Linked DNA regions of Homo sapiens: regions 2, 3, 4, 5, 6 and 7 are each linked to region 1. Evidence: fine-mapped expression QTL. A gene starts in region 1. Each other region holds a variant in brackets. All regions are shown on one strand. Distances are between the middles of the regions.

Region 1 (4,274 bases):
ATCTGCTAAGATGTGTTGCTAGTGTTCATGGTAAAAAAAATATCTGTGGAGCAGAAGAAGGCTTTTGGAGCAAATTTAGAAGGTGGGTGAAAATATAAGATATTTAAAGCTTATGATTATTAATTGTAATATTCACCATCAGGTACTTTGTGGAAAATATCTAAATCTGTGATGTTATTGAATCAGTGGTATCAAAGGTTAATTTTATTAGCTTTTCTGGACTTTTAACCATTGCCCATTTGGTAAACATTTTTTTCAGAAATAGAAAGTAAATATCCTGTCAGATCAGCATTAACATATGAATATTTGAATCAATTTCGATAAGGCACATTAACTTTGAACTCCAATAAGGTGAAATGTGATATCATTCCCAAAATGTATTTTTTTTTGCCTTACTAAGCTAGTATTACAAAAAATACTCATTCACATGATATTTTGAATTTTATTAATAAAAAAAATTTAGAACCTTTTTTCTTTCTTTACATAAGTACCTGCATCCTACATATATACTTGATTTTGCTTTCTGGACTGCAAAGACTAAAATACTATCTGTGACTTTACAGAAAATGTTTGGCATCCTCTATTGTATAGTCCCAATTTATAACATTGTTGTGATAGCTAGTTTTGTGAGTCAACTTGGCAAGGCTATGGCCCAGTTATTCAATCAAATACCAATCTTCACAATCTTCACAGGGGTTGCTGTGAAGTACTTTGTAGATGTGATTAACATCTACCATACATTGAATTTAATTAAGGGAGATTATCCTCAATACATTTGGTTGGTGTGATCCAATTAGTTGACAAACCTTATGAATAGAACTGAGGTTCCTTGAAAAAGAAGAAATTCCTCCTGAGGACATCTGCCTGTGAGTTTCCAAACTGCTCTTCCTGACAGCCCCACAATCGCATTAGCCAATCCCCAATCTCTCTCTGTCTCTCATATACATATATATGTATGTGTATATATATATATATATATATGCATATATGTATGTGTATATATATATGCATATATGTATGTGTATATATATGCATATATGTATGTGTATATATATGCATATATGTATGTATGTATGTGTATATATATATGCATATATGTATGTATGTATATATATGTATGCATATATATAAAATCTCCTACTCTGGTCATCTGGTGGAACCCTAATACCACTGCTGACTGTATAAGACATTATTACCTAATTTGTGCTGCTAGAAAACAGAAAAGAAAATAACTGCAGATAAAACAAAATCAATAATTTTTTGTTGCTCCAGTTCAGCTGTGATATTGCCTAATCTATCTTAATGACTCTCCAGTGTAAGGCAGAAAGGGGTAGTGAGAGTCATGAATAAAGAAAGAAAACTCAGCAAAACTTAAATTCAGCCTTATCACTGTGGATCAGACTTTTTTTTTTTTTTTTTGGACAGAATCTGTTCTCAGAGCAAAAATGAGATTTTTCGAGGAAATGTCTCCATTAGCCTAACTCTAGGGCTCTTTTCCTGGGTCCCACTGTTGCTGGCTGTGACAGCACCCTTCACCTTGCAGTGATGTTGGTAAATAGTGTATTTACGTATTTTCAGAGTAGAGCTTCTAGAGCTTACATCAGATTTTCCAACGGGTTTGTAGCACCAAAACGATAAAAAGCTGTAAATGGGCCAGGCACGGTGGCTCACACCTGTAATCCCAGCACTTTGGGAGGCTGAGGCTGGCGGATCACCTGAGGTGGGGAGTTCGAGACCAGCATGACCAACATGGAGAAACCACGTTTCTACTGAAAATGCAAAGTTAGCCGGGCATGCTGGTGCATGCCTGTAATCCCAGCTACTGGGAAGGCTGAGACAGGAGAGTCGCTTGAACTCGGGAGGCGGAGGTCGCGGTGAGCCGCGATCGCGTCGTTGCACTCCAGCCTGGGCAGCAAGAGAGAAACTCGAAACTCCGTCTCACAAAAAAAAAAAAAAAAGGCTGTAAAGGATCCACCTCCAGGTAAACATTTACTCTTCCATGTCACCTGCTGTGTACATTGTCTCTCTAACCCTCACAATAATCATATGAAGTAGGTATTAGTATCCCATTTCACAGATGAGAAAACTGAAGCTTAGAAAAATGAAGTCATTTGTCCCCGTCTGGATTCGAACCGAGATCTGACACCAAAGCTCATGCTGAGGGGAGTTAAGGAGGTTTGTTCAGTCCCTAGGCACGGCAATCAGGAAACTCTCTGCACTTGCGGTGGTGGTCTGGCGAGCCCCAGGTGGGGACTGGCCTCTGCTCCCTCGCCTGGGGAGGAGACAAAGTGGGAGTGGTCCCCAAGTTTTGCGTGAAGTGGGGTGGGGTGGCGTGTCTTAGCCTACGGGGCACCAGCCTTCTAGTGTGCCCCTGCCCAACGGGAGGGAGGAGGGAGCGGGGAGCCCCGGCGAGGGAGGAGAGGGCGGGCCCTGAGAGGAGTTTGAAAAGAGGAAGGAAGTGGGGCCCTGCGGCGCCCAGCCACCCCCTGACGGCTTCCCCACGGGAGGACGCGAGGCCCCGGCCCAGCCATGGCCCCCTGGCGCAAAGCTGACAAGGAGCGGCACGGCGTGGGTAGGTGCGGGCCCCAGGGCGCGGCAGGGAGCGGGACAGGTGGCGGGAGAGCCGCGAGCAGGAGGATGCTGCGGGGCCGGCGGCGCGGGGTGGGCAGGGCGCGCTGCCTGCAGGTCAGAGGGCGCAGCCTGCGGCGGGGCCTCGGGGCGGGAAAGCCGAGGCTCGGGGAGAGGACGGCGGGACCCCACCCCGCAGGCTAAGCACAGCCCTCGCCCTCTCGCCTGCTGAGGGAACCTTAGACATTTCCGAGATAGGGTCAAGACCTGCGCTTGACAACTCAGTTCTTCGCGCCAAACTCGGCGTCCCCAGGAGTGCCCCAGCTCGCCGCGTGGGAGACTTGGCCTTGTAGAGGGAGCTCCACTCTCCCCTGGCTCAGCCTTGGCCTGCCCACCATGCATACTTCCACCCCCTCCAAAGCGACACCCATTTGCCTGCTTCCCCTGTCTGTTCCTCCTGGGTCAGATGACTCCTGATTTGGCAGGGCATCCAGAGGGCAGCTCAAGCTTGGGGGAATGGGGCTGGACGGTGGGGTTCTCTACTCAGCCCCCCAGAGCCTCTGGGGAAAAAGGCTCCCGCCAGGTGGTCTTAGGGTAACCAAGAAGCTAGCTTCGTCAGCCTCAGCCATCTAAACTCCCAGAAGCCTCTGCCTGGAGCTCAGGGGCGGAAGTGGTGGCTGGGGGAAGGGAGGCCTCAGGTGCTGCTACTCTAAGTGTCATCCGTGGTGCAATCTCCATGGACTCACTGTGGTTTTTAAACTTAAATATCAAATAAAAAGTCACTCTGGAGCTTCCTACACAGGCGGATACCAGACACCATCTCAGAGATAAATATTTCGCAGGTGAGGCATTGGAAGACCCAAACACCCAGAGGGATTTGATGCAGGGGGTCCCCAGGCCACTGTTTGGGAAACACTGCCCTGGAGAGATCAGCAGTTATCCACTCAATTACTGGGTACCGGGCACTGTGGGGTCATTTTGATATAAATGGTCCCCATCCAGAGAACAAATAATAATTCATATCTCAAGGGGCAGTTACAAAGTAAGGAAGGATACAGCTTCTGCCCTTGAGGAGTTATGTGTAAGGCTAGAGGCTTGGACTGGGAAGTCAGAACTGAGTTCAAATCAGGGTCTGTTTCCTCGTCTATAAAGTGGAAGTAATAATAATGCAGGTCTCATGAGACTCTTGTGAGGATTGAATGGGGTTATGCATGGAAAGCATTTAGTAGTGTGCTGGCTCAATAAGAGTTAGTGATTCAGGTCCAGGGTCTTACCTAGCAGCTTCAGAACCAAGAGACACCAGCACCAAGATGCACCCTAATGCCAGATTCAGGACAGTCATGCCTTATGAGACTGTAGTATTTCATGGTTTGCAAGACCAAAGGTCATGCAATCTCTGTCTGACTTCAGAACCCCCATGTGAGGCAGTGTATTATTCCCAACTTACAGGTGAAGTAACCAAGTTTACATCACTTGGAAGCAATGGAGCGGGCCTTAAATTCAATTGTCTTCAGACCCTAGGCCCTTTGCATGGCACCAGAAAAGCATCTAGAAGGGGAACATCATGGGTAAAGGCAGGGAACTGGCATCCCTGAAGTGTGTGGGTCAAACAATAAGTAGTCTGTTTTGGTTTTAGTATTGCTTTTAGTGTTAAAAAAATTTCAGAGGTAGATTATGGCTAGATTGTGAAGGGCTTTGAGTGCCAA
Region 2 (4,466 bases), 300 kb after region 1:
GAGATGGGCTGGCATCCAAGGTCCTTCTAATGTGAAGGCAAAGATTGAGAGTGGCTGCTATAGAAGAGCTCTTTCTGGTAAATCAGTCATTATCCTGAGCATCAAGAGTCTGCATAAATAAATTCAGAACTGTGTTTTGTTGTTAATATTGATACTGCATTCACCTGGGGAAGGAGGCTGCTTATTTGCCCACTTTTCAGAAACAATGAATCTTTAGTCCAGCTCCTTCCCTTTTCTTCCTTCGTTCGGCCTCCTTCCTTGTGAGGAGTAACAGCTGTAGAAGTCAGGGGACCTTACTGGCCGCACTAAGAGAGTACCTGTGTGTATCAGCCTTCAAGCAGTTTTGGGGTCAGACACCCACTTCTCAGACTTCCAGGCAGCTGCCAACCTTTGCCTTCCCTTCTTGGATTTCTTTCAACATGCAGATTTATGAGGTGGGGAATGCATGAGGGGTGGCTGGCGTCCAGACTTACTGTAACCAGAGAGAAATGAACAGAGCGTGCTCCAGGGGACATGCAGCACTTCCTGAACAAACTACTGGTGTCGCCATTAATGCTACTGACTTAGGAACCTCATGTGCCTTTTTGTCTTTTTCTTCACTCAGCAGGACCGGCATCTATTGCTAATGTTAGGTTTAAGCATTTAGGGCAGAGCATGCCAATCTTCCCTTGATCCATACTGCTCATTGATCAGTGGTCACATTTGTAGCACACCTCATGTCTGTGGGAGGTAGCTGTGGGGTTGAGAACTGCTGAGGCAGGGGGTTGAGTGTTCCCAATTAGGGGTTGGCAGTAATCAGGTACTGGGGCGGGGCTTATGCCACTTGCTTTATTGTTCACGTAATAACAGTGGACTTGGATTGTGAATTCCTTGGAACAAGAAGAGTCCCTTCTACTGTATTTACCCGGGAAGACTTCTCTGATTTCCTGGGCTGATTTGCATTCCCCTCCTAGGTACTTTGGTAGTTGTCCCCGGAGTGGATCATAGCCAATACCACCCTGTGTTGTTCCCACTAATTTACCTATCCGCATGCCCGTGAATCACAAACCCTCAAGGGCAGGGTGTCCCCAGTGCCCACACCACACTGGTTTTGTAGTAAGAGGTGCATGCACATATGCTAGGAGATGGAATGCTTATCAGCACCCACATTTCTTCCAGCCTAATTGTATGCGCTACATTCACACACACCTGGATCTAAATCCTGCTCTTTGCTTCCAGGCTGTCTGACCTTGGGCAAGATACTTCCCCTTGCTAAGTCTTGTCTCCTTCCTTTCTAGGATGCAGCTGATGATAGGACTGAACCGATTGGGTGCTACGGAGTATTAAATGTGATAGTATCTGCCAAGGGTTAGCACAGGGCTGCTCACGGGATCAGTGCTCAGTAAATGCTAGTTATCATGCAATCCTTATTGTTAGTTTCATTATTATCTGTATGATAAATTGATTGTAGTGTCATCTGCAAATAGGTAAATAAAGCATTATACATTGCCAAAACAACTTTAACCACCTTACACTTGATATTTATTCTGATTAAACAACAATGACCTGAGAAAGTAGTATAGAAAGTGATTGTGCTATGCTGGATACAATATCAGCTAGAATGCAAACGTTAGCAGCCAACATACTGACTGCAGCCATCTAAGATTCTTGGGAAGGCGGGAAAATTAATAGAAAGAGCACTGGAGAGGGAGTCCACGTGGGCA[G/A]GAAGCTAAGCAGCAGTGAAGACAGCGTGGCAAGATTTGGATAGAAGGACTGGCCAGCACTGTGGAGAGCCCTCTTAATTGGAGGGAGCAGCTGTGTATAAAGACAGTCTGCAGAGCAGCATGCCATTGCCGTTTCTGAGTAAATTTGTACACTGTTTGCTGTGAGTCACTGCCAAGATCCTCTCTTTTGTACATTATCAGATCAAAGCTTTAACTCGACCAAAAAAAGGTCTCATCTCCCATGCCTGTGTAGGGAAACTGAATCTCACTTGCGCCCTTCTGCTCCCATGGAACCATCGCAGAGGCCTAGAATGCCCTAGCTTTCTTTCTCTTCTTGTGTGCTAAGTCACCAAAATCTGACATGCTGAACTGTCAACTTAATGGTGGAGTTCGGGTTGAGAGCTGATTTCTAAAACCACTGCCACCTCTGGACAGCAGCCATTCGGATATCAGGTCAAGGTTTGGGAGACTATTAAGAAGCCAGCACCAAGACATGCTGGTGGAGAAGTCGGAGTTTTATCACGTCCTACCTACTTTGCGGTGAAATGAAGGTCTTCATAGTGAGGTGGTGATGAACGTTGCCGATGCGGTGAAGTCATCCTTCATCACTGTGCTATTTTGCTTAGAGCTTCAACTGCTACATTATGTCTTAAAACTTGTCAAGTTGTGCACAGTACACTGACTTCATAGGAGAAAAAACGCGTTGTGTAAAAATATAAAAAATCAGACATTTCTGGTAGAACGAGACATTATAACTCAAAAGTCCTACAGATAAATAATAATTAGGAATGGCATTTACTCCACAGAGCAGGAAGAAAACAACATTCTCTATCAGCTACATCCTCAAATGGTTACAGTTTCCTGTCTCTAACCACAACTAATAAAAGGCCAGGTACACAGCCTTTAGGAAGTTAACATAAATTTTTTCTTGGGGAGGTGGCATGGCGGTGGGGGGAACAACTGTAAAGAAGTCTGTTTCTGTTTCCTAAGTATTTTTGCCAATAAAAACAAAATCGTTCCCCACTTGTTAGAAAATGTAACAAAACCACCTGTCTGCCCTTGAGGAGATGGAGAACAAAATCAACAATATTTGCATTTTGACTACACACAGAATTAATCCATAGAAGCAGAGGCATTTTTGAGGCCCAAGCGTGATAACACTTCCGTGCATGGTTCTACAGACAAGATAATGTCCGTGCTTCAACGACAGAGATGGGGCTAGGCTGCAGCAAGGGCAGTGGGTTCCTAGGGCAAAACATTTTAGGACGGTTATTCCTCATCCTCAAACTCTGAACTTATCTGGCCATTTTAGGAGAGGAAACTGAGGATCCAGGAAGTGAAGTGATTCTCAAAGGTATCACAGCTAGTCAATAGCAGATCCAGTACCCAGGGAGGGAAACAGCTGATTATAAGATAATCAAAATGAATAAACACATCTATTCTATCCTGTGTGTATTTCGATGGGCATGTTGGGGAGAATCATTGGTGATTCTCAGACTCCTTTTTTTTTTTTTTTTTTTTTATGAATTAGCAGATCCTTGGATTTCACTGGAGAAACCAGTGTGGCTACTGATCCATTACAGAATCTAGCATTCCCCAGAGAGCAAAAACCTCCTCCTGGGGGGCGCGCTCCAGCCTATATAGATTTGGTGCACCAACACTGCACTGTCCTCATGAATAATCTCTGATCAGAGGATACTAATTAAGACGTGGCAATGCCCACTTAGTAAATTAGCTAAATTGACAAAACTCAATTTAAATAACAATTTTGTCTCTTGTGATAGAATTATAACGACACCCTTCACTTAATGAGCCAGACACTTAATAATTCAAACATACTTACAGAAAAATCAAACAAAGCTTCTCAATCCCAGACTGGGTTTCCCACCACCTCTCCTGCCACTGCTTTGCAAAAATGGTAGCTTGAACACTGTGGAGGAGAGGCTGGGTATTTGGTGAGGAGGGAGGGGCTGACCAGTTTCTGGGCAGAGTAATTGGTAGGTGACTCCTTCAACAAACTTCCAGCCAGCTGCCTGTTTTTGTAAATAAAGTTTTACTGCGGCACAGATATGCTTATTTCTTTGTATAGTTGTCCAGAGCTGCTTTCAAACCACCATCAAAAATTTGAGGAGTTGAGTAGTGGTGACAGAGACCTTATGGCTTGAAAAGCCTTCAACATTTATTATCTGGCCCTTTAAGAAAAAAATCTGACCCTTTGAGAACAAGTTTGCCAACCCGTAGACTTGGGCTGCACCTTGGATCTATGGTTCCCTGGGTGTGCAACCTTGAATAGATACTTCCCACATCCCTGGCCTATGATTTTCTTAAGTGTAAAATAGGGATGATACAAAGACTATCTCCTGAGACTGTGAGAATTAGGTAAGATGCTGCACGCTTATCTGTGCTTGGCACATAGTAAGTGTTCAATAAAAGGCTAATGAGATTAGTAAAAGCAATGATAATAGGAACATATATTGAGTACTTATATGTTCTAGACTCTGTGCTCAGTTCTTTATCTATATTAACTTGTTTAATCCCATAACAACCTATGAGGGAGATATAATTATTTTAATTTTACAAATGGATAAAGAGTATTTATTATTATTTTGTCTATTCTTCTAAATTCTCATTTAGTAACACTTTTGCCCAGTAGTAACTGCTCTCCTGGCTGGCAAGCTGCTCAAGGGAAGGTCCTGAGGGTCCTCATTGTCCCTGGACCCTAGACCTAAAGGCATGGATCATTCTATTGGTCACTGACAACAC
Region 3 (4,466 bases), 67 kb after region 1:
TCCTCTGCAGCTCCCTCCTAACCCTGTGTCCCTAGGACACATGGAAAGTTGCTCTATTCTGCTCCTACACAGTGAAATATCGGCAGATGTATATGTTTGGTTGTTTTCATGGGACAGGATCAATTCAATTGGAGCTTTCCTTTGCCTTCCCAGAAGGTGTCACTAGAGGATGAAAATTAAATGACTTTTAATGTCGAGAAAAACATGGCCAATTTTGAGTGTCCCTACTTCCCTTTTTGCAACTGATTTCCTAGCATCCCTTCATCCCCGTGTTACCTACTTCTCCAGCCTCCCTGATGAGGGAAAAATGCTTTCTCTAAGCAATTCTGATTTTAATTAATACCAATCCAGGTGGGAGAGCTTCTTCTCACCCTCCATCCCCTCTAGTTAGTCAGCGTCTCTCCTGCTGTAATCCACACTAACTCTTGTCTCTCTCTCCCTCTGCCTCAGGGGATGTCAGGAACGACATCTACATTACTCTCTTACAAGGTGACTTTGACAAGTACAACAAGACCACACAGAGGAATGTGGAAGTCATCATGTGTGTGTGCGCGGAGGATGGCAAAACGCTGCCTGTAAGGGACTCACTGCTGCTCTGGGTGACAGGGTCCGCCTTGGGGGCCTCTGCTTGTAAAGACGTACTTTTCCTCTCCCTGATTCTGTTGTCTAAATGCCAGGTGCCTTTGGGATGGTGTTGAATAATGTGTTCAACACCTTTTGAGCTTGGTTAGTGCAGTGTTCCATAATAAGACCTTGTGATATTTCCTTACACCAAAGCAGTTTTTCAATGTCTGTTCCTTTCCTTTCACAACTTCTTCTTGTATGTATGTATGTATGTATGTATGTATTTATTTATTTATTTACTTTTGCTTGGTCTCAGCTTATAGGTTAGCTTTCTGCAGTTAAAATGTTCTCACTGAAACCTGAGCTGGTTTATTCAGGCAAAGTCCATGGTAAGAAAGAGGATCAATACAGTGCCTTGGGCTGGTGTGGAGGCTCAGGATGTGCTTAAAGCAGGCATTCTCAACACTTAATCTAACTCCCCAGCGCTCAGCCAGAAATGCTGGTGGAAAGCCTTATTCGTAAATTGGTCTCCAGAGAGCTAGCAGGGTGTATTCAGGAATGCAAAGCGCATTGCTATATTTATACAGCATATGTCCTGTCCAATATTTGTCATGTGTGTTTATATTTATTTGCTTGTATTTTCTTTAAGGTTGTCAGTGCTGTGTCCAGTGTGTAGGAGGGTTTTGTTTCTCAGTTCCTCCTGACAGAGTAGTTAGCTGAAAAGAAAATCAGCTCTCAGGAGAAATTTTAGCATGGGCGAATATTCCTCTTAGGCCACTGTGAGTGATCAAATAGCCAAGCAGGGCGGGTGTGTTCATCAGAGAGGGGATGTGAAGATGGAAGAGGCATCATTTTTGTCCTTGGGGCCTGGAGATCAGACTGATACTTTGTACCCAAGAATAACTAACATTCACAGGGGAATTACCATGTGTCAGGCTGTGTGATAGTATGACACATTTCCTTTATTATGCCCCATTTTACAGATAGGGAAACAAAACCCGTGTCACTTACAGTAACTCGCCCAAAGCCATAATGTTAGCATATGTCAGAGATGGGGTTTGACTGGTTCCAGGCCCTCTGAGACACTTCACTACAATGCCCGTACATGTAGCAAAATTCTCCAATTTATTTCTCATTTTAAAAAATGAGGCTAATAACCACTGCTGGCAAATTTGGGAAGATTCATAATCGTTTTTTAAATGTAAAGAAATCCTCACAATTGCCTTTTTGTTCATAAAGACTGGTCATGTTAATTAGTATCTATTTGAACAAAATCTAAGCATTGAACGCATCCTCCTTTTGTTGCAGTCTGAAACTTTTTCCAAAAAATAAAATAAGTGAGAAATACTTGACTCAAAGGAACATAAAGGAGCGGAGGGTTTTTATCTGAAAGGGAAATTGCAATTCCCAAATGTAGAGACCATTGCTTTGAAGTTACTTTTATCCAACTTCCCTGGTAGAGAACTTTTTAACCTCAGCTTCATTTTTGAAACATTGATACGCTTACCTTCCATGTTGCCAAAGGACAAATTAAAAGACACAGTTAACAGGCAAGCAGCCATCTTATCTCCTGTCTGAGCCACTCTTTCTTCCACTTTTGTCACCCTTTCAAGTCACTACCGAGCAGGCTGAGCAGATGCACTTATCCAAGATGAGTAG[G/A]TAAGCAGGTATTCTGGGGGCTGACATGGAAAGGGAACTGTGGGGCATGGTGATGATTTGTGGTTTCCTCTATTAGGGAAATTCTGGGGGAGTTCAGTTGACTGACTATTGAAAATTGCTTAGGAAGCCTGTGGGAGGCTTTTCTTTCTCTATTTGTAGAAATAAATATTACTGCCTAATTAAGTGTCAGTCAGTACATTCAAACACTTCTGTTTGATATTGGTGGGCTCCTGTGGAAATGGTCCCCTTTAGAAATATTGATTTCTCCTCCTGCTCTAGGTGCATGCACACTGTCTTTGGCAGAGCAGGACCAGAGGGCAGAGGAGGTTAGGCCTGCTCATGGCTCACCTTGGGGTGTCAAGGGCCTTGCTCAGGAGGGGTCATAGCAGAGAAGCTAATGGGGTGGGCTCTGGGGTCAGGCAGACAGGGTTCAAATTCCAGCCTCCCCTCATATTAGCTGTGTGATCTTAGGCAAGTTTATTCATGTGTAAAAAGAAATAATAACCTCTTCTCGTGGGGTTGCAGGTTAAACAAAAGAGTAGGTATTAAAACAACTAAAAGAGTATGATTGGATTGTTTATAACACAAAGGATAAATGCTTGAGGACATGGATCCCCATCTTCCATGATGTGATTTTTATGCATTGTATGCCTCTATCAAAACATCTCATTTACTCCATATATATGTGTGTGTGTGTGTGTGTGTGTGTGTGTGTGTGTGTGTGTGTGTGTATGTGTATGCACACACTATGTGCCCACAAAAATTAAAAATTTTAAAATTAAAAAATTTTAAAAATAAACATGCTGCTGGGCACAGCGGCTCACACCTGTAATCCCAGCACTTTGGGAGGCCAAGGGGGGCAGATCACTTGAGGTCAGGAGTTTGAGACCAGCCTGGCCAAGAAGGTGAAACCTTGTCTTTACTGAAAATACAAAAATTAGCTGAGTGTGGTGGCAAGCACCTGTAATCCCAGCTACTCAGGAGGCTGAGGCACGAGAATTGCTTGAACCCTGGAGGCAGAGGTTGCAGTGAGCTGAGATCGCACCCCAGCCACTCCAGCCTGGCCGACAAAGTGAGACCCTTTCTCAACAAACAGACAAAACACGCCATAGGTATAAGGCACCTGGTATTGCAGTAAGTACCCAGCAACAGGAAGGAGGGTCACATTCAGAGAAGAGGACCAAGTGCAGGGTGAAGCCCTCTGAGGGACCTGAGGGAGTCAAACAGGCAATCCAGCCAGAAGCAAATTCTGGTGAAAGAGAAAGGCTTAGATGCTGGGCCAAGAAACCTCTGTTTTTCTGAGACCACCCAACTTGAGGCGGTGGAGGCAGGGGATAGGGGAAGTATGGGATAGTGGTTAAGACCATGACCCCTGGGGCCAGACAGCCAGGTGCAAAGCCCAGCTCTGCCTGAATTAGTAAGAGGATGTTGAGGCAGTTACATAACCTCTCTAAGCCTGAGAGTCTCTGTCTGAAAATAGGACCAGCAATGGCACTTTGCTCTTGTGAATATCAGATGAGGTAATCTACATAATAGGTGTGCATTAAATTTAGCTATTATTATTAGAAGGGTATACTGAGCTCCCAGCCTGATTCCTACCTTAGGCATGCTAATCGACATCCCATGATGTGGTCTTGTGAGAGGAGAACACTGTCTTTCCTAAAGTGTGTTCACATCCCTGGTGTCATCTCTTTCTCACCTGATTCCTACCAAGTAAACAGGACATGTGTTAGGAGCCTGGTTTTTCTTCCTGCAGAGATGTTTCTTCTAAGGCCAAGCCAACATGAAAGCCTCCAGGCTTCCTGATCCATACTCAGATTTTCTTCAACTGACCTGAAGTCTCCCACACCTATGAGGGGCTCTCACTGTTAATTGGGGGCCATGGGGATAGGCAATGTAGAAAATTATGGAACAGTGTTATTTGAGATATATACCAGTGTATATTTTCCCTAGAACTGGGCTCAGTCCCTGGTCACAATGCTCTCTCAGTGCACTTCCCAACACTGTTATTTCTCTGAAGTGCTGAGGCCTATGGCACTATCTTTGGCTTTTCTCTGACTGGTACTGAGACTTTTTTCTCCAGCCTTAGGAAATCAAAAATTTTCATCATCAGTACAGTTTTGTGAGATCCAGTTGCCTGCCATGCGGCAGTTTTACTTTCACCAGAGATATATGTGTAGTTTCTGATTTGGTAAGCTACATGGGATTTACTGTAACTACAGAAACTCTAAGCCCATAAATGT
Region 4 (4,466 bases), 200 kb before region 1:
TTATAGTTTTGTTGATTCTCTAGGCTCAAGAGAGTGATGAAGAAAATGTCATGAATGAAGATAAAACTTAAAATTGTCTTATGTGTACAGTTGTTACATTCCAAACAACACAAAAAAATTGAGAGATGTTCTTCTAGCATTCAGAAACCATCATGTGATTCAGCATAGAAGTTATGTCACTGAAGAACAAGTGAAGTTCTTCGATGCTGGATACAAGACAGGATGCCCAGTTAAATCTGAATTTCAAATAACCAATATTTTTAGTATAAGTATATCCCAAATATTGTTCAGAGCACACTCATACTAAAAATTTAGTTGTTGTTCTCTGCAATTCAAACGTGGAGTTTCCTTTATATTTATTTGCTAAATCTGGCAATCCTAGACATATATCTTTATTGTTTCATTTTCATCTTATTTGTTAACATAAGCAAAAGCATCAGCAGTCATAGTGGAACTATGCTTGTTCATCAGTTGTAACCAAAGATCATCTGTGGATATAAAAGTTTGATAGCAATCATCAAAATAATTCCATAAGAATCAACTGACTATATGAGATTTGCAATAAAGAGTATTTTATATGGTATCATTTATAAATTTCTTGCAACATATCATTTATATCAGTAAAATGTATAATAAACTTACATGTGTATGCATATGTGTATATATACACACTTTTTCATTTTTGGAGAGTTGGTCATTAAATATTTATCGGCAAACCACTGGAGACAGTGAGAGAGTGGTACACCACCCCTTCAGAATGCATACAAATTCACTTTTCTAAACACTGTTCTTCCAAATCAAACTTTCTCACCTATTGCCTTCCAACTGTTCTTTTGCTGTATCAGACCTAGGACAGGTCAAAGTCAGGGCCCCATTAAGTAATAATGACCAAGCTCACACTGTTGAGAAATCAATCATCTCCAAAGTATCTGAGCACAAACAACTGAAATAAGTTTTCTCTCTGCTTAAAGGCTAAGTTTAAAAATAATAAAGGGAGGAAGAGGATAATTCCTCCCTAACCCCCTACCCACCCCCTTTGTGAGCCTAATTCCATCATCTGAACTATTAAACATTCACTCCCATCTCCACCCAATTACCCACCCAAGCTGAGAGGCATCTCTGGGTGCCACCAGGCTCTGACATATGGGACTCATAACCATGAGCAGATAGCATCCGCATTCTTGCCAGAGTAGTGCTACATCTTGGAAAGACTGATGCAGTTGCAAGACTGCCCAGTTATGCTTCTGCTACTATTCTTTCTGACTATGACTAAAGGCCACATGGACCGTGATTAGGGCAGCCATGGGGCCCAAGAGGTCCACGGAATGCAAGAGCTCTTCTCAATTACGGTTAAATGCACGAAGAGCAGGAAGCACATCAGTGAGGCACACCTTTAGGTCGTCCCATCCCCAGAGAGACAGATTGGCAAGGGCAGAAAGGAAGACAGGCTGGGCCTCCAATCCAGATGCCTGGAAAGAGCCAGGGGCTCCAGACAGGCTGGGTTTCCACATTCCAGGGCTTAGCTCCACTCCCACTTGATTCTCATGCCATACACTTGCTTTGTGTTAGCAACAAGAAAGAATCCACAAACTTTTGAGCAATGCACACTCTGTTGCTTATTTTATGCTCGCTCTCTCTGTCTTTCTCTCCCCTCCCCTCTCTGTCTTCAGAATGAGCAAAGACACAATAGAAAAACACATAAGAACAGAATCTCAAGTTTTAAGTAGGGAAAAGAAATTAGTAGAAGCTTGACCCTAAATGTAGGACATTAAACTTCTTATTTGGGTGTAATTATAATATTGCACATAGTATTAAACACTCCCATGGATATATTCCCAACTCTAAATCTCTATCCTAGGCCAGCATTTCCCAAAGTGTGTTCAGATAGCTGTTTATGCATATTTTACAGAAAAATGGAGGGACAGTTCCACAGTCAAATACGTTTGGAATATTTCCTGTTAAATTTTTAATTAGATGTGTTTGCCGCAGGACTTCTCAGAGACTTCGATATGCAGATGAGCTTTGGGAATCTA[T/C]TCACTGGAGGGAAGCTCACCAAGTTTCCTAAATTTATTTCAGTGCAGAATCCCTCTTTCATGGAGTATCTTGTAGAACTAGTGTTCTAAAGAAGAGATTTATAAAATGCTACTTAGGCTCTAACTATTTTCAATAGCTTTCCATTAATCAGTGATCAATTTACCATTCAGATCTCCATGACTTTATTCACCTACTCTCTTCTCTCATCTTCAACTATCAAATGATTTGTCTTTCTTCGAGATCCTTTAGGTGTTCTCAAAGCCCCCATCATAATTCTCTTCTCTTCTTTCTTTGCTTCCACAAGACTTTCTCTGTGCCAATGCCACCATCATCACCATAAGCTTTGGGAAGGCAGCAGAGCTTGGCGGGGTAGGGGGTGGAGGTGGCCTGGACAAGAAGCCAGCGATTTGGAGTCAAAGGCCAGCCCCACGTGACCTTGGTCATGCTACTTTACCTTCTAGAGGCTCAGTTTCCTCTTATCTAAAATGGAATACATAATATTTTTGTCACAGATCCATTGTGAAGAACTCATGAAAGGGTTTCATGAAAGTACTCTGCTATCATAAAGTGAAACTGAAAAATTATCATTTGCCTCATTTTTCCTAAATTTGTTTTATCATAAGAATCACCTGGGGCACTTACTAAAAAGAGAGATGTCTCTGAGGAATCTGTTTCCATGACTGGGACCTAGAATTTGTAATTTTAACAAGCTTGCCAGGTTGTTAAATCAGAAGAATTTAGAAGGCACTGAATTATCTGAAAGAAATTAGAAATAAATGGTGATTCTGATAGCAAAAGCTACAGACAAGTGGGAGATAGTTGACGGGGGGGGTGGGAGGAAGGAAGTAAAGCCACACACTACAGGTCTCCTTTTACTGATTACACCGGGTAGGTGTGTGTATATCCCTTCATCGGCTAGAGCTTGGTTGGATATTTGAACTTTGTGCAGTAATTCTGGGAGTACACACTTCCGATACTATATTGTGAAGTACCCCACTGGTCAGGATTTCTCTAAAGTGGTCCTGATGACTTCTTCATTTGAATCTTGAGTCTCAAAAGAAATAAATTATAACCTTTGGATCATCATAGAGATCTTCATTCAAGAAATCAATTTCACTGCATTTCTAATTAAGGATTTGCTGAGCCCAAGAAAAGGAACATATCTATGCACCTCCTGGTGCCACATAAGGCATTTATAACTCTGTATATAATTGTTGAGGTCTTTATGAATGACCAAAAGAGAAAAAATGACCCATCTCTGAAATAATCTCTTTGTTTGTATGTATTCTTTATGCTTTCTCCATCTAAGAGCTGGGATTACTTTGGGAATTTATGTCTTCAACAGAGGAGCAAAGAAATAAAAATGATATTTGCTTTATTAAAAATAGAATCAACACCCCAAACATAAACTCATTATTTATAGAAAATCCCCTTTTTGTCAAACCACCAGCAGAGCCGCTACTGCAGCTGATTTTTTTAAAAAGTTCAAATAAAAGCTGGGAAAATCTTGTAGCCATTAGACCATAATCGGTATGAATCACCAATTTGTTTTTCATGACTTTTTCTGCATTCCTTCTATATTTTGCAGTTTATTTTGTTCAATGTTTTCAGCAACAGCTTTGCCAAACCCCAGAATCGAGAAGTCATCCAAGCAGGGAGTGCGTGTGTCCCACTCTACAAGCTGCTTGCTCAAGTAACAAGGCATACGTTTGACTTATCTCCCTTCTCATTCTTTTCTGTCTGGTTACAGGGACAGGCAGAGAACAATCCAACCTAAACACTGATAGGTAAGGCCTTAAAGAGTTGAGGATGCCCAAGAAAATTCCGAGCATTAGGACCCTTTCTTTTCCAACTACTCAACGTGCATCTTACAGAGACTGAGGCCTTTAAGAAAAAAACAAAACCAAAAAAATGCAGTTGTGACCAGTTGGCAGCAGCCCCACTATGGCTTAGTTAGTGCAATAAATAGTTTACTTTAACTTAGCTCCAGCCTACTGAGTCTCTCTCTTCTACTCCTATACACAAACAGTCTACTTTTTATTTACAAATATTACACATCTGCATGTGAAACCACACTCTCTCTTGTTAAATAGATATTTATTTCTCTTTCTCCTAACATGGGGAACTAGTTTTGAAGTAAGTTAATCCTTTCACTGCACTAAATATACTGGTATTTCTGGATCTATCCTAGTGGTGGCAGTAGGATGAGTATCAAGTTTATTCATTCAACCATCCATTCATTAATCCATTTATTCATTTATTTATTGTGTAAATATTATTAAGTGCCTATTCTGTGAGGCACAGGCATTGGGTTAAGTAATGGCAATTAAATACATGAAGTCCCTGCCTTGGTGAAACTGTATGGTCTAATGGGAGAAACAAACATTAAGTGAATGATTATATATATATATATATATATATATATATATATA
Region 5 (4,466 bases), 440 kb after region 1:
CTGGGGGGTTAACTTTATGATATTAGCACATTCATATCCTTCTTCAGCAGCTGTATGAAGTGCAATTGGCTCCATGTGGTAAGATGAGGCTATGCCCCCTCCTCTGTTTTCTCTCAGCTCTTGCCTTCCTCTATCTCTCAGCTTCTGACATTCATCCTTTCACTTTAGTATTGCCAAGAACATCTTAGGCAAGGTTTTAAATCAATGCAACAGAGATTCCCCTCCTCTGATCCCCACACTCTGCCCCCAAGTAGATTCTTTAAGGGGGCAATTTTCCCAACCATGTGGCCTTTCATGGGGAAGAGGGGAGTCCAGCCCTCCTATGAGGCAAGGGAAGCTGGGGGTCTTTCTCTCCTTTCCAGAGCAAACCTCATGTTTGCAACTTTCCCCATTTCCCATGGCTGGGGACCGTGTGTGCAGGTTTCTGAGGACCCTGAAGCCCTTGATGAATTCTTAGCAGGCAGACTTGACTGCAGCTGCCTTGATGGGCGGGGTGCCAGGCTGAGGCCCACCGGTCAGCCTCTGGCTCATTCTTTACCACTTTCTCTCCAGATCCCCTTCTTGGGAGCTGGGATTAAGATCCATGAGAAAAGGGTGTCAGATAACTTGCGACCCTTCCATGACCGGATGGAGGAATGTTTCAAGAACCTGAAAATGAAGGTGGAGAAGGAGTACGGTGTCCGAGAGATGGTATGGGTGGTTCCTATGGCTTGGAGGGGTGGGATTGTGCAGGGTGGGGCAGGGAAGCATGCTGGAGGCTGAAGTTGGAGGGGATCCAGCAAAGGAAGCTGCTTCCAAAGAGAAGATAATGATGGCCAGCATTGCTGGATCCCATCCAGGGGAACCCTCCTGGAAACTTGGTCCAGCAAAAGTAACCCCCAGACAAACTCCAGTTACAACTGGATTGTGCAGATACCAACTACTCAAGGGACTGTGTAATAATAATGAAAGCTACACTGATGCAGCATCTACTATGTGCCAGGCCTGATTCAAGCACTTGACATCTACTAGGTCATTTAATCCTCACCACAAGCCTGAGAGGCAGGAAAGATTTTTAATCCTTTGTATTTCTTCTGAGGTTCAGAAGGTCAGGCAACTTGCCAGAGGCTATGTGGCAAATGAATGTGGGGCAGAATTTGCATCTGGCTCTGTTAGTTTAAGGCCAGTGATTTTGACCGCTGAGCTCCTTGGCCTAAAGAGGCCATGAGCCTGGTGCTTACGGGGTGCTTCTTCATCCTTTTCCTTATTAACTGGTGTTATAAAATGTCAAGGCCATGCAATTCCTTTAAAACCATCTGGTCCAGCCTTCCCATTTTACAGATGGTAAAACTGAGACCCAGAGAAGAAAAGTGAATTACTGGAAGAACCTACAGATGCACTCAGGTCTCTTGATTCAAAGATTTTTTTCCATGAGGCAGTTTGTCACTTTCAATACTCCCTACATGAAGTCCCTGTAATGCAATTCTGGTGCTAACTCCCTGGAGTTAGGTCACATTTCACAGGTTAGAAGCACAGTCTTAGACACTTCCCACTTCAAACACCAACCATAAGCTTCAGGGACCCAGGCCACCCACACTTCTGCCTAACTGGTTACAAACTGGGAGATTCCCACTACCCCATCAGGTTTCATAATTCACTAGAATAATTCACAGAACTCAGGAAAGCATGATACTTATGATTTCAGTTTATGATACAAATCAAGACCAGCCAGGTAAAGAGACACAGAGTGAGGTCCAGGAGGGTCCCAAACATGAAGTTTCCACGTATTCCAGATGCATCCCCCTTCTGGCACATTGATGTATGATTACCAGCCAGAGAAGTTCACTAGAGCCTAATGTCCAGAGTTTTTATTGGGGTTTTATTATGTAGTCATGATAGATTGAACCATTGGCCATGTGATGGAAATCAGTCTCTGGGCCTGTCCACTCCCTGGAGGTTGAGCTGATACCACATGGCTTAAAGCCCCAGCCCAGCCCTATAATCATAGAGCTGGTCTTTCTGGCCATCAGGAGCCATCTTATTAGCATAAAATCAAGTATGGTCAAGGGGGCCACCATGAATAATAACAAGGATACTACTATCACATAGGAAATTCCAAAGTTTTAGATATTACCTTCCAGGAACCAGGAGTAAAGGTCATCCACATTCTTCATTCTACAAGAACGCCCTAGCCTCAGCCAGCCAGGAACTTTTGTGCTGATGCTCCACTCAGCCCCACAACTCTGCCCTGCCTAGGTGGAGGAAGAAGGTGACAGGAAGGCTGGGGCCACCTTCCCCAGGCTACAGCTGCT[A/G]ACCACCCTGTTCTCCCACCACAGCCTGACTTTGACGACAGGAGAGTGGGCCGTCCCAGGTCTATGCTGCGCTCATACAGACAGATGTCCATCATCTCTCTGGCTTCCATGAATTCTGACTGCAGCACCCCCAGCAAGCCTACCTCAGAGAGGTCAGTCCCTGCACCCCAAGGAGCCCCCCACACCCCTGCCTCCCTGGCTCTATCCCCCCTCCTTCTCTCTCTTCTCCGGCAACATCCCTTCTACCTTTCCCTTCCTCCTTTCAGTTTAAAAGCCTTTTCCCATCTGCAGTCTCACAACTACCCCAGGAGGCTCATGGTTAGTACCATTTTTAGGGGATTATCAGAGGCTCAGAGAGGCAAGGCAGCTTTCCTGAGGACCCAGCAGGAGTCACCTGCAGCCCCCAGACTTCTAGTCCAGTGATCTCTGTCAGCCAGGCAGAGCTCCTCACCAAGCCTGCATCCTTCTGGAATATTGTCACCTCTCATAGGGATCTGTTCCCTTTCAAGGAAGCTCCTCCCAACCACGATGGGATGTCTCCATTGCAGAGCTCTTCCTCCTGCACCACCTACCCACCCCTCTGTCGGGGGTCTTCCCTCCCTTGCCCCTTCCACCTTCCTGGAGCCCTCTGGCCATCATTGTTGGACCCTCCAGAAACTTCCCTGCGGGCCTCAGAGGTTACTCTTGCCCAGAGGGAAAAGGATGGAAACGTCTTCTGTTTCACAGTTCTAGGGGGCATCATTCACAATTCTAGGGGGCACCATTCACCCTGCCCAACTCATCTGTTCTAATCATAGATACATGAGCAACCCAGCACTTACCATATGCCAAGAATATGCCAAGGGTTCCTCAGACATCATCTCATGGCCACTCTGCAAGGTCTCTGCGAAGACCTCCATTTACTGAAAAGGAAATGATGGCTTGAAGAGGTTGAGTGATTTACCCAAAGTTATTCATTCAGCTAAGAACTGGCCGTGCCTGGATTTGAATCCACATTCATGCTTTCAACCAGTCTTCTCTCCTCACCACCAGTTTCTTTTCTATGGCTCACTTCTTTCAATTTCATTTTACCACGAATAAAATAAAGTGAACTTTACTCATCACATTTAACTGTTTGTGCATTGAGCAAGTTGCTCCCCAAATCCTCTGCCAGATTTGCTGATCTACTCCAGACCCTGTAGTGACAGCTCAGGCAGCCCAAAGGTCCCCTTCAGCTTCCTGGGTCCTTGCAAGGCAGTTCTACTGAAGCTCTAACTGCAGTTTCTATTGCTGCCCCTCTGGCCTTTCAGCTTTGACCTGGAATTAGCATCACCCAAGACGCCGAGAGTGGAGCAGGAGGAACCGATCTCCCCGGGGAGCACCCTGCCTGAGGTCAAGCTGCGGAGGTCCAAGAAGAGGACAAAGAGAAGCAGCGTAGTTTTTGCGGATGAGAAAGCAGCTGCAGAGTCGGACCTGAAGCGGGTGAGTGGCTGAGGCAGATTGCCTCTCCAGCGCTGTTAGCACATTTCCACTACATGCTGGGCACAAAACCCAGGGCTTCCAGATATGGGCTTCCTGAAGCCTGCCACTGCGGTGCTATGGGTATTGCAGAGGCGGCACCTGAGGAGCTGAGAGGTGAAGTGCTTACTCGTGCCCAGGCAGCTGGGGTGGCTGGGACATGACAGAGCTGGGAGTTGAGCCCTGACCTTTGCACTTCAGAGCCTGTGTGTATCCTTTCCACCATCACACAGGGCTTTTCCAGGCTGGGGAGAATCCACCTGTTCTCCCACCAAAAGGGAGAGCAGCCCACTTGGTACTGAGCTAGGTGTTTCTATAGCCCCCAGCCCCAGGCCTATTCTAACCACTGATGTCTCAGACCCCTGCAAGCCCCTCCTGTGTGCCAGGAGTCCAGGTGGGGATACAGGGATGAAATCTCACTGTCCTGGCTTTGAGAGTGTTGGTCTTGTAAACTAACGATTATTTAAAAATGAGACTTGGTTTCAGACAGCCCTGGATTCAATCTTAGTTTCCCCCTGGAAAAGAGGTTTGTTGGAAGTGTTCTGGGAACCTGGGAGTGGGAGATGGATTAACTGCCCTGGCAAGGGAGGGGTGCCAAATGAAAGAGCAAGGGGCCAACCAAGATGCCTTAGTGAAGAAAGGGCCCTCCAGAAACTTCCCAGTGGGCCTCGCAGGCTA
Region 6 (4,466 bases), 140 kb after region 1:
AGAGGCTGGTCTGTGGACCTCGGTAGTAAAAGCATTATTCAATGGCCAGTGTCCCTTTAAGAAAAGGAAAAGAACAGACCTCAATTGTACAGAGCTGGAGCAGTCCTGGCCATTAATTCAAAATACATCTTATTATTGATCCACACAAGACATGCTTTTATTTATTTAAATGTTCTATTCATTATTTTTAATAACAAATGAAGCATCCATGCATTCACCACACAAAACAGAAGCTAGGAAGTTAACAATCACTTACGTGTAACCACATGACTGCCTTTCCCCACCTAAGGTAACCACATTCTTGAGTCTTTTTTTTTTTTTTTTTTTTTTTGAGACAGGGTCTTGCTTTGTCACCTAGGCTGAAGCACAGTGGCACAGTCATAGCTTATTGTAACCCTGAGCTCCTGGACTCAAGCAATCCTCCTGCTTCAGCTTCTGAGTAGTTAGGACTACAGGGACATACCACCATGTCTGGTGAAGTTTTTTAAAAAAAACTTTGTAGAGATAGGGTCTCCCTATATTCCCCAGGCTGGTCTCAGACCCCTGGGCTTAAGTGATCCTTCTGCCTTGGCCTCTCAAAGCACTGAGATTACAAGCATGAGCCATTGCACCCAGCCTCTTGAATCTTTTGTTAATCATTCCACTGCTTTCCTTTTCATGCAGTTGTATTGCATTTATATATATTCCCAGTATTTTAGTTATTTGAACTTTACGAAAAGTGTATTGAACTGTTGATAATTTGAAGGAATTTATTTTTTTTACTTAATATTAAACTAGGAATCATCCATATTACTGATTGCTGGAGTTCATTGTTTTGATGACGGTAGGAAATTCCATTGTGTGAATAAGCCATAATTTGTTCATTCATGCTTTCAATTTCAGGCATTGGGTTGTGTCAGTGTTTCTTCTATTGAAAGCACTGCTGCTAAGAACATTCTTGTACATGTCTCTTGTTGTAAATGTTCAAGAGTCTCCTTTGGGGATAGAACTACTAGTAGATTTGCTTGGCCATAAGGGATCAGAATCTTTAGGAGATAGTGAACACTCTTTTCCAAAGGTGGTTGTACCAATTTACACTCCCACCAGCAATGCCGAAGTGGACCTGTGTAGCCACAGTCTCTTTAATGCTGGATATTGCCCTACTTCTTAACCTTTGCCACTAAAATGGGCTTAGACTACATCATCACTGTCTTCAGTTGCATTTCCTTGATCACCAGTAATGCTGAAAATCCTTTGTTCTGTTTTCTTTGCCACTCGTGTTTTGTTTCTTTGCTATGTCTTTTCATGTCTTTTGACTGTTTTTCTTTTTTCTTTTTGAGACGGAGTCTCGCTCTGTCGCCCAGGCTGGTGGAGTGCAGTGGCGTGATCTCGGCTCACTGCAACCTCTGCCTCCCAGGTTCAAGCGATTCTCCTGCCTCAGTTTCCTGAGTAGCTGGGATTACAGGTGTGTGCCACCACGCCTGGCTAATTTTTGTATTTTTAGTAGAGACAGGTTTCACCGTGTTGGTCAGGCTGGTCTTGAACTCCTGACCTTGTGATCCCTCTGCCTCGGCCTCCCAAAGTGCTGAGATTACAGGTGTGAGCCACCGCACCCGGCCTTTTGTCTTTCTGTCAGATTGGTTGTATTTTTCTTATTGATCTATAGGATATTTAATATATTCTTTCTACTTATCTTTTGCTGATTTTATGTATTGTGAATATCTTCTCCCAGTTTATACCTTGTCTTTTTATTTAAGATGCATTTTCATGAGCAAAAGTTCTTAATTTTAACACAATCAAATCAATGTTTTTTTAGTCAAATTTTTGTGTGTGCCTTAAGAAATCTTTCTCAGTCCTGAAGTCTAAAAGATGTTCATTATTTTTACTAAGAATTCTATAATTTTAGTTTTGATACATAAATCCTTTATCTACAGAGTTTATGTTTTATATATAGTGTGAGTAGGAATCTGATTTTTGTCTTTCATTTTTGTTTTTTTCCCATTTGACCACACCTCTTTCCCAGCTTCATCTGCTGGACAGTTTCTCCTTTCTCCATGCCAGTGTCATTTTGCATTTTCAGGACATTGCTCTTTCCTACAGGCTGTGGGCTGAGTTGCTATAGCCTAGATTCAATCTCCGGTGCTGAGGACAGGGTTGCTGTAGACTGGATTCAGTCTCTGGTCCACAACATGCAGGTTCTCTGTGCTATCGCTCACTGAGAGCTGAAGGATTAGGAAAAAGGAGTAGCCTCTCCTCCTCCAGTCAAGCCCCTGAATTAGTCTTCAGTGTGATGTTAGCATCCTGGGAATTATGTGCCAAGGCATAGCACTTACCTTCTCTCGGCTTGCACTTTCTCA[A/G]TTATGAAAGAAATAATTTTCCTTATGGTAAGAAATTGCTTGGGCTCATAAAGCTACCTTCCTGTAGTTTCTTTTTGTATTTGATAATAACAGCACTGAACTGGGAGTGAGGAGACCTGAATCATAGTAAAAACAACATCAGCAGTTGCAACAGCAACTGACGTTTATTGACTGCTTATTATGCACTGGCACTGTGCTAAACAGTTAGGTATATTATCTCATTTAGTGCACAGTTGTGAGATCTTGGGCATGTCCCTTAACCTCTGTAGAACAACTGTAAATGATGACACTGAACAAGATTTTGTAGTGTTCCACCAACAATGAAAATCTATGTTTTAAAAAAGTCATCCTCTGCTTCACAGTGATAATAATTCTGAATCTTTTTCACATAATACCATTTAGTGCCTTAAAAACCCTCCTCTTCCCATTGAAAAATATTCTCCCAATACTGTGTTGAGAAGTATTGAGAAGCATTCCCCCAGTACGTCTCAGCATCCTGCCTCAGCTGGGGGCAAGGGATGAGGCCATTTTATAGAACCTTAAGTGAATGGAGGGCAATTACATGATGCATTCGAGGTTACACAGCTGGTCATTTAACAGTGCCTCATGTGCTGGAGCGTTTCATTTCTTCAAGAAAGTACCATCGATTTTGAGGACAAGTTTTTTCTCATCAGAGCATTTAGAGGCATCAAAGTTCTTCAAGTGAGGAGCCCACTTTGCCCGTTTCAACTGCAGTGTCACAAAGCCATAGCCAGCACCAAAACGTCCCTTCCACACTCTGGAGATCTGAGAAGGGGTTCTCCCTCAAATCCTCTCTTCCTGTTCTGATGTGACAGATTGCAGACTTCATTCTCAGAGAGAAACCTTCAGATCCAGAATCAGAGAAGACAGTGATTTAATGTGCTGCAGAACAAGTCCAAGAGAGATTTATGAAAGTGTCTGTTGGGGGTGAGGGTGCACTGAAGTTAAAAAAAATTGGCATACAATCAAGGAAAAAAATCTGTCTTAAACTTCCAAAAATACTTAGAATAGCAGCTTTCAATGGCCTTATGAACTACAATTTAATTAGGGGAGAAAAAAATTCCCGATCACTTCTTTAATAGCAATGTAAATAAACTCAATAAACTCTTCGTGTGTGTGTGTGTGTGTGTAATTTACCTCATTAAAAATAGAGAACAACAAAATCACTCTGTTCTCATATCTTTCAAACTATATTCCATGGGATTCTTATCTAGTTTTGGAATGATTCTTTGCATTAATGGAAGCATACATAATGAGGGCATTTATATAAATCTTTATAAGGTTATGCATTTACTCCAAAATTTTGTTTTCACTGTGAAATTGCAATCATGAATGATTCCCATTATGCTGAGGTGGGGTTTTAGAATGTTTGTATGGTTTGGCTGTGTCCCCACCCAAATCTCATCTTGAATTGGAGCTCCCATAATTCCCACGTGTTGTGGGTGTGACCTGGTGGGAGATAATTGAATCATGGGGGCAGTTTCCCTTATACTGTTCTCATGGTAGTGAATAAGTCTCACGAGATCTGATGGTTTTATAAGGGGAAACCCCGTTCGCTTGCTTCTCATTCCCTCTTGCCTGCTGCCATGTAAGACGTGCCTTTTGCCCCCTGCCATTATTGTGAGACCTCCCTAGCCACATAGAACTGAGTCCATTAAACCTCTTTTTCTTTATAAATTACCCAGTCTTGGGTATGTCTTTATCAGCAGCGTGAAAATGGGCTAATACAAGCATCCTGAGACTTTTATGTTGATCTGTTGAAATTTGATTTTGCTAGGTTATTTTTCCCCAACATCTTAGAATAGAAGGAAATTTCCTGAAGACGACAATACAGTTGAATTGAAAATTTGCTGCAGATTCATTTCAGTTCAAGTAATATTTATTAAAAATCTAAAACTGTGGCAGCACTGTACTGTGGGGACTATTAACAAAATACAGTAATAAGTAATGTATGGCCACCACTTATTTAACCATGATTTTGTGCCAGGCCCCAAATAATTAACTAGTTTAATTATCATGACATCCATGTAAAGTGTAGGTATCACTATTCCTATTTAACAGGTGAGGAAACTGATAAGGAGGTTTAAAAACTTGCCAGTTAAGGAGGTT
Region 7 (4,466 bases), 390 kb after region 1:
CTTTTATATCTTTGCCTGAAGAGATCCTAGACACCCTTCAGCTGAGGCTTTACTTTTTGGGAAAGGCTTTCCTGCCTCCTGGGGCAGTGGTTCATCTGGGTACAAGAGACAAAGATTTTCTCAAGCCAAGTATACATAGGCTGGAACTAGGACAGGAAGGTGTTAGACTCTCAGTGGCTCACGGTTCTGGGGGCTGAACAAGAGGCAACCCCAGGGCAATCTCTTTCTCTGCTCTGGGTTTCTTTTATAAGCTCTGTGCCAGATTTCCCTGTCTCACCTCTCACCCAAATTTCATAGACAGCTGATGGGTTTGACTGATGACATTTATCCCTCATGAGTGTAGCACTTCATCCCAGACCATCTCGGGGGTCTCTGTCCATTGTCTAGGACTGGATGTCCCACCCCTGGTACACCACATGATTCCCTTGGTGGGGTTGTGGAAGGACAGTTTCAGCAAGAGGGCCTTAGGTGGACCCCATTGTGGCCGGCTTGGCCAGGACACATGCTAGTCAGAATGAAACGTATCCTATCCTGCCTGGATTGAGCGGTCATCACACTTGTCCCACACAGCACAATTACCTGCTCATAGGTCTGTGTTCCACAGCAGACTGTGAGCTCTTGAGGGCCAAAGCTGGTCTCTCAGTCCTGAACTCCCAGTCCCTGTCAAGTGCCTGAGATGCACGTGGTGGGCACAATGTCAGTGTTCCCAGAATGAATGGATGGAGGCATTTAGACCCCCATCCCATGTCATTCAGGGGAACCACATCGGCACAGGGAGGTGCATTCCAGCAAATGTTTTTATAAACTAGAATAATGGGGGTTGCTAATGACTGCTTGAGTAATCCCCTTGCCCCGAGTACACCAGCTGTCTTGCTGGCCAATTCTTTGTGGAAAGAGGGGATGTAGGTGTTCTGGATGCTATTGGTGGGAATGAGTGGGAGTCCTGGGGTATAGAGACCTTGGAGACTGGTTGGCTAGATGCAGATTGTAGAACAGGACTGTGTACCAGTCAGCATGGGGATCTGAGCCCTCAGCAGGCAGGAGATCCCAGAGAGAATTCTTCTCTCAGAGAAAGAAGAGGGGATAGCATCTGACAGCAGCACCTAGAACAGTGCCTGAACACCGTAGGAGCTCAATCTTTGCTCATTGAATTAATTAATAGACGGAGATAGCCATGTTAGCAGATTCCACTGAGACTGCATCTTGGCGTGGAGTAAGCTGGTGATTTAAATTGTTTAGAACATAATGTGGAAAAGATTACATCAATTCAATAAATCTGTACTGAGTGCTTGCTGCGTTCTCGGTACTGTTGTTTGGATTCAGATAGACCTACTTCTTATAAGCTGAATCAATGTGGGTAAGTTATTTAACCTCTCTCAGCCTCAGCTTCTTCATCTGTAAAGTGGGTATCCAACTGCCATTAGAGGTTCCCATCCCAAGCTCTTTTGGGGGATGAATTGGAACGATTAGAGACAACTCAAAATTAGAAAGCCGCGCTGACTTCCAGACACCCCTTCTCACGTGACATTCTCTTTTCCAGGTTCCTCCCAACTCTACTTCTTTCCACCCAGGATAACTGGCATTTCATAACAGAGGAGGTCAAAGGCAGACTTACTGGTGTTGATGTCATCCTTGTCATCTTCCTGACATCCAGGCCTCTAATAACATCTCTGCTCTTCCCATGTCAATGTCAGCACCAGACGTGTGAGGAAGAGCAATCACTCCCCAAATCTCATACTTCTACAGGGCTGGACTCCAATCAGAAAACATTCTAGGAGAA[C/T]AAGATGATAAAAATAGCCAAGATATTCTAAAGCAGCCAGGAGAGGCAAGAGAAGCAATGCAGGGAAGGCATGAAGCAAACACGAGGCCCATATCAGGCCAGTCTCCTGGAAGAGGGAGGCCCAGGCAGAAGGTTTGGGCTCCTGGAGTCCACTCCTCCTTTCTCGATTAGAGCTTCTCAAGATTTGTATTGGGCCTCTGTAGAATCTGACTTCTGTAGTGGCTCAATACAAATCTGTGGATACTCATTAGCAAACATCCACCTCGCAGCAGTGGGGTAAGGAGTCAATGATGTGATGCAGTCATGTAGCTGTGGATGAAAATGGAAGTAATTTGGAGAAGCCAGAGCTACATCCTCAACTCTGGATGGTGACAGTGTTGGGGGTAAGGACTGTTGCAGCATCATGATGGAGTGTATGTTTGGGAGAGCCTTTTTTTTTTTTTTTTTTTTTGAGACAGAGTCTTACACTCTGTCACCCAAGGTCCTACGTTGCCTCAGCCTCCTCATTTGTAACATGGGGATGATGACATTCTTCTCCCTTGGCTGTTGTAAAGATTAAATGAGAGTATGATGCCTATGATGATGACAATGACAATAGCATGATGAGCTTTGCTAACAATTATTGAGCACTTACTATGTGCCAAGTGCCTTATACGTGTGTTTGCCCTTTAATTTGTTACAGTACCACTATGAAGGAGATGCTATTTCAAATCTCCATTTAATAGATGAGCACATTAAGCCTTAGAAATGTTTATTAACTTGGCTAAGGTCACAGGGCTGGGAAAAAAGTCAAAGCAAGACTCAAACCAAGTCTATTCAATGCCACAGACTGTGAGCATAGCCATTTCTGAGCACAGTACTGACCCTGGGATATGCCTGACTGAGACCTTACCCCTCCAGCTCACCCCAAGGGCTCAGGCATGGTGGTATGGTATCATTTGTCTCACACACTCCCTGGAACCCTGTAATTTCCCTCCTGGCAGGCTCTTTTGTGATCCTGAGACAAGTGCTTATTTACCTCAACCACTTCTGTGCTCCAAAGAAAAGTTCAGCTCACCAGGAAGAATCATGCCAGCATTTCCCAGTGAACCACTCAGACAAGAAAAAATGCACTTTTCTCCCCCTGCGCTGCTTTCTAGTAACATTCGGCAGTAATAACAATAACATTAGTGGTGATGACAAGTCGAGGGACACAGCACACACTTAATGTTAGGCACTTTGCTAGTGCTTTACATATAAAATCTCTGTGCCCTATAGCTACTCCACACTGTAGGTACTACTGTTATGCCCATTGTATTGATAAGGGGTAGACAAACTCTGGCCCACAGACCAAATCCATCCTTCCACCTGCTTTTGTAAATAAACTTTTATTGGACTACAGCCATGCCAATTTGTGTATGTGTTGTCTAGGGCTGGTTTTGTGCTACAGCAGCAGAGTTCAGTAGTTGTCACAGAGACCATCTGGCCTCCAAAGCCTAAATTATTTACTGTCTGGCCCTTTACAGGAAATGTTTGCCAGTCCCTGATCTAAATCCTGACCCTGAGGATTAGAAAGACCTACCAGCTTTCCCAAGATGGCAGAGGGAAGCGGTGAGGGATTTAAAGCCAGACAGCCGCACAGCAGACTCATTGTATAGCCCCTTAGCTGTATTTCTTCCTGCTCTAGGCTTGGCAGAGAAGACATCTCTAAGCATGATAGTCCCCAACCCTTGACATTGGATAATATTCAACACAGACATAATGCTTGACAGGATGCACCATAGAAGGGACGTGATTCATTTGCAGACTGGCAGTCTAGACTCTTGCCACACTGGGTCTCATCTAGGTGTCTGTTCCCTCCCTCCCTCCCTCCCTCCTTCCCTCCCTTCCTTCCTTCCTTCCTTCCTTCCTTCCTTCCTTCCTTCCTTCCTTCCTTCCTTCTTTCCTTCCTTCCTTCCATTTGTCCGTCCATCCATTCTTCTCTGCTCAAGCTGAACTGCTGTCTTCATTTTTCTCCACGTTCCCACCTCGACAGCTTTGCTCACACCGTTTCCCCCATCTGGAATGCCTTCCTTTTCACATTTATCACAGTCCTACCCATTTTTCCAGGCCCGGTATATCTCCTTCAATAAGTCTTCCCCAACTGAGGCAACTCACCGGAAATTCTTTGGCATTTGTGCTGTATCAGCACAAGCTTTTGGTCCCTCCCTTAGATCCTTTGTGCACAAAAGTGAGGGAACGATGGCATCACGGATGATGTGTGAACCAGAGGGAAGAGCAAATGTGGTCCCTGCCTTTTCATCACCTAAAGATTCCAACTCCATGGAGCTCTATCCTTTATGCCCAGGAAAGAGCCTGCCAAAGGTCTCTGCCATTCATCTAAGACTTTAGACAGGTCACTTAAACTCCCTGAGCCTCTACTTCTTCATCCGTAATAATAACTGACACCGAGGGTTGTACCAAGCAAGGGCTGGCTGCTCTTCATGCATTGTCACATTTAAAGGTGATCCGTGACCTCCAGACTTCATGAAGTATTATGAAGACCGGGTGTAAAGAGGTCAAGTTAGAGGTCAGGACTCCCCAAGTCCTCTTTTGGTCTTGGTGACCTTTGCGAAGCTCCCCTTTCCCTCTCCAGGTGCCAGTTTATTTTTTAATGGTAAAATGAGGGAAGGGTGGACTGCATGATTTGGATGGACTCTTCAGGGTA

Direction of the effects. Alleles are on the strand shown, and positions count from the first base shown. SD is a standard deviation of normalised expression in the study named. Not every link is listed here.
With allele A in place of G in region 3, the expression in testis of the gene that starts at base 2,478 in region 1 is lower (large effect, 0.79 SD a copy in GTEx).
With allele T in place of C in region 4, the expression in fibroblasts of the gene that starts at base 2,478 in region 1 is lower (moderate effect, 0.61 SD a copy in GTEx).

Evidence for each region.
Region 2: its variant is fine-mapped to the expression of DOCK2 in whole blood (TOPMed, PIP 0.98).
Region 3: its variant is fine-mapped to the expression of DOCK2 in testis (GTEx, PIP above 0.99).
Region 4: its variant is fine-mapped to the expression of DOCK2 in fibroblasts (GTEx, PIP above 0.99).
Region 5: its variant is fine-mapped to the expression of DOCK2 in whole blood (TOPMed, PIP above 0.99).
Region 6: its variant is fine-mapped to the expression of DOCK2 in whole blood (TOPMed, PIP 0.95).
Region 7: its variant is fine-mapped to the expression of DOCK2 in whole blood (TOPMed, PIP above 0.99).

The regions. Positions count from the first base shown.
Region 1 is chr5:169,634,798-169,639,071 of GRCh38, forward strand. DOCK2 (dedicator of cytokinesis 2) reads left to right here and starts at 2,478. Exons shown (of 52, transcript NM_004946.3): 1 at 2,478-2,572. The coding sequence starts at 2,530. RefSeq lists silencers at 2,346-2,825, 2,856-2,915 and an enhancer at 3,176-3,275.
Region 2 is chr5:169,933,375-169,937,840 of GRCh38, forward strand. All of the region lies in intron 27 of DOCK2 (dedicator of cytokinesis 2), which reads left to right. All of the region lies in intron 1 of INSYN2B (inhibitory synaptic factor family member 2B), which reads right to left. Among named protein-coding and RNA genes, the nearest start is that of INSYN2B, 45 kb to the right of the region's middle. The variant G/A (reference allele first, on the strand shown) is at 1,704.
Region 3 is chr5:169,701,853-169,706,318 of GRCh38, forward strand. It overlaps DOCK2 (dedicator of cytokinesis 2), which reads left to right. Exons shown (of 52, transcript NM_004946.3): 14 at 451-575. Among named protein-coding and RNA genes, the nearest start is that of DOCK2, 67 kb to the left of the region's middle. RefSeq lists enhancers at 1,061-1,110, 1,171-1,580. The variant G/A (reference allele first, on the strand shown) is at 2,224.
Region 4 is chr5:169,432,042-169,436,507 of GRCh38, forward strand. No RefSeq gene overlaps it. Among named protein-coding and RNA genes, the nearest start is that of SLIT3, 130 kb to the left of the region's middle. The variant T/C (reference allele first, on the strand shown) is at 2,034.
Region 5 is chr5:170,075,395-170,079,860 of GRCh38, forward strand. It overlaps DOCK2 (dedicator of cytokinesis 2), which reads left to right. Exons shown (of 52, transcript NM_004946.3): 47 at 553-690; 48 at 2,316-2,443; 49 at 3,581-3,752. Among named protein-coding and RNA genes, the nearest start is that of FOXI1, 28 kb to the right of the region's middle. The variant A/G (reference allele first, on the strand shown) is at 2,292.
Region 6 is chr5:169,769,983-169,774,448 of GRCh38, forward strand. The region is part of intron 25 of DOCK2 (dedicator of cytokinesis 2); the gene reads left to right. Among named protein-coding and RNA genes, the nearest start is that of DOCK2, 130 kb to the left of the region's middle. The variant A/G (reference allele first, on the strand shown) is at 2,337.
Region 7 is chr5:170,022,148-170,026,613 of GRCh38, forward strand. All of the region lies in intron 33 of DOCK2 (dedicator of cytokinesis 2), which reads left to right. Among named protein-coding and RNA genes, the nearest start is that of MIR378E, 4.1 kb to the right of the region's middle. The variant C/T (reference allele first, on the strand shown) is at 1,781.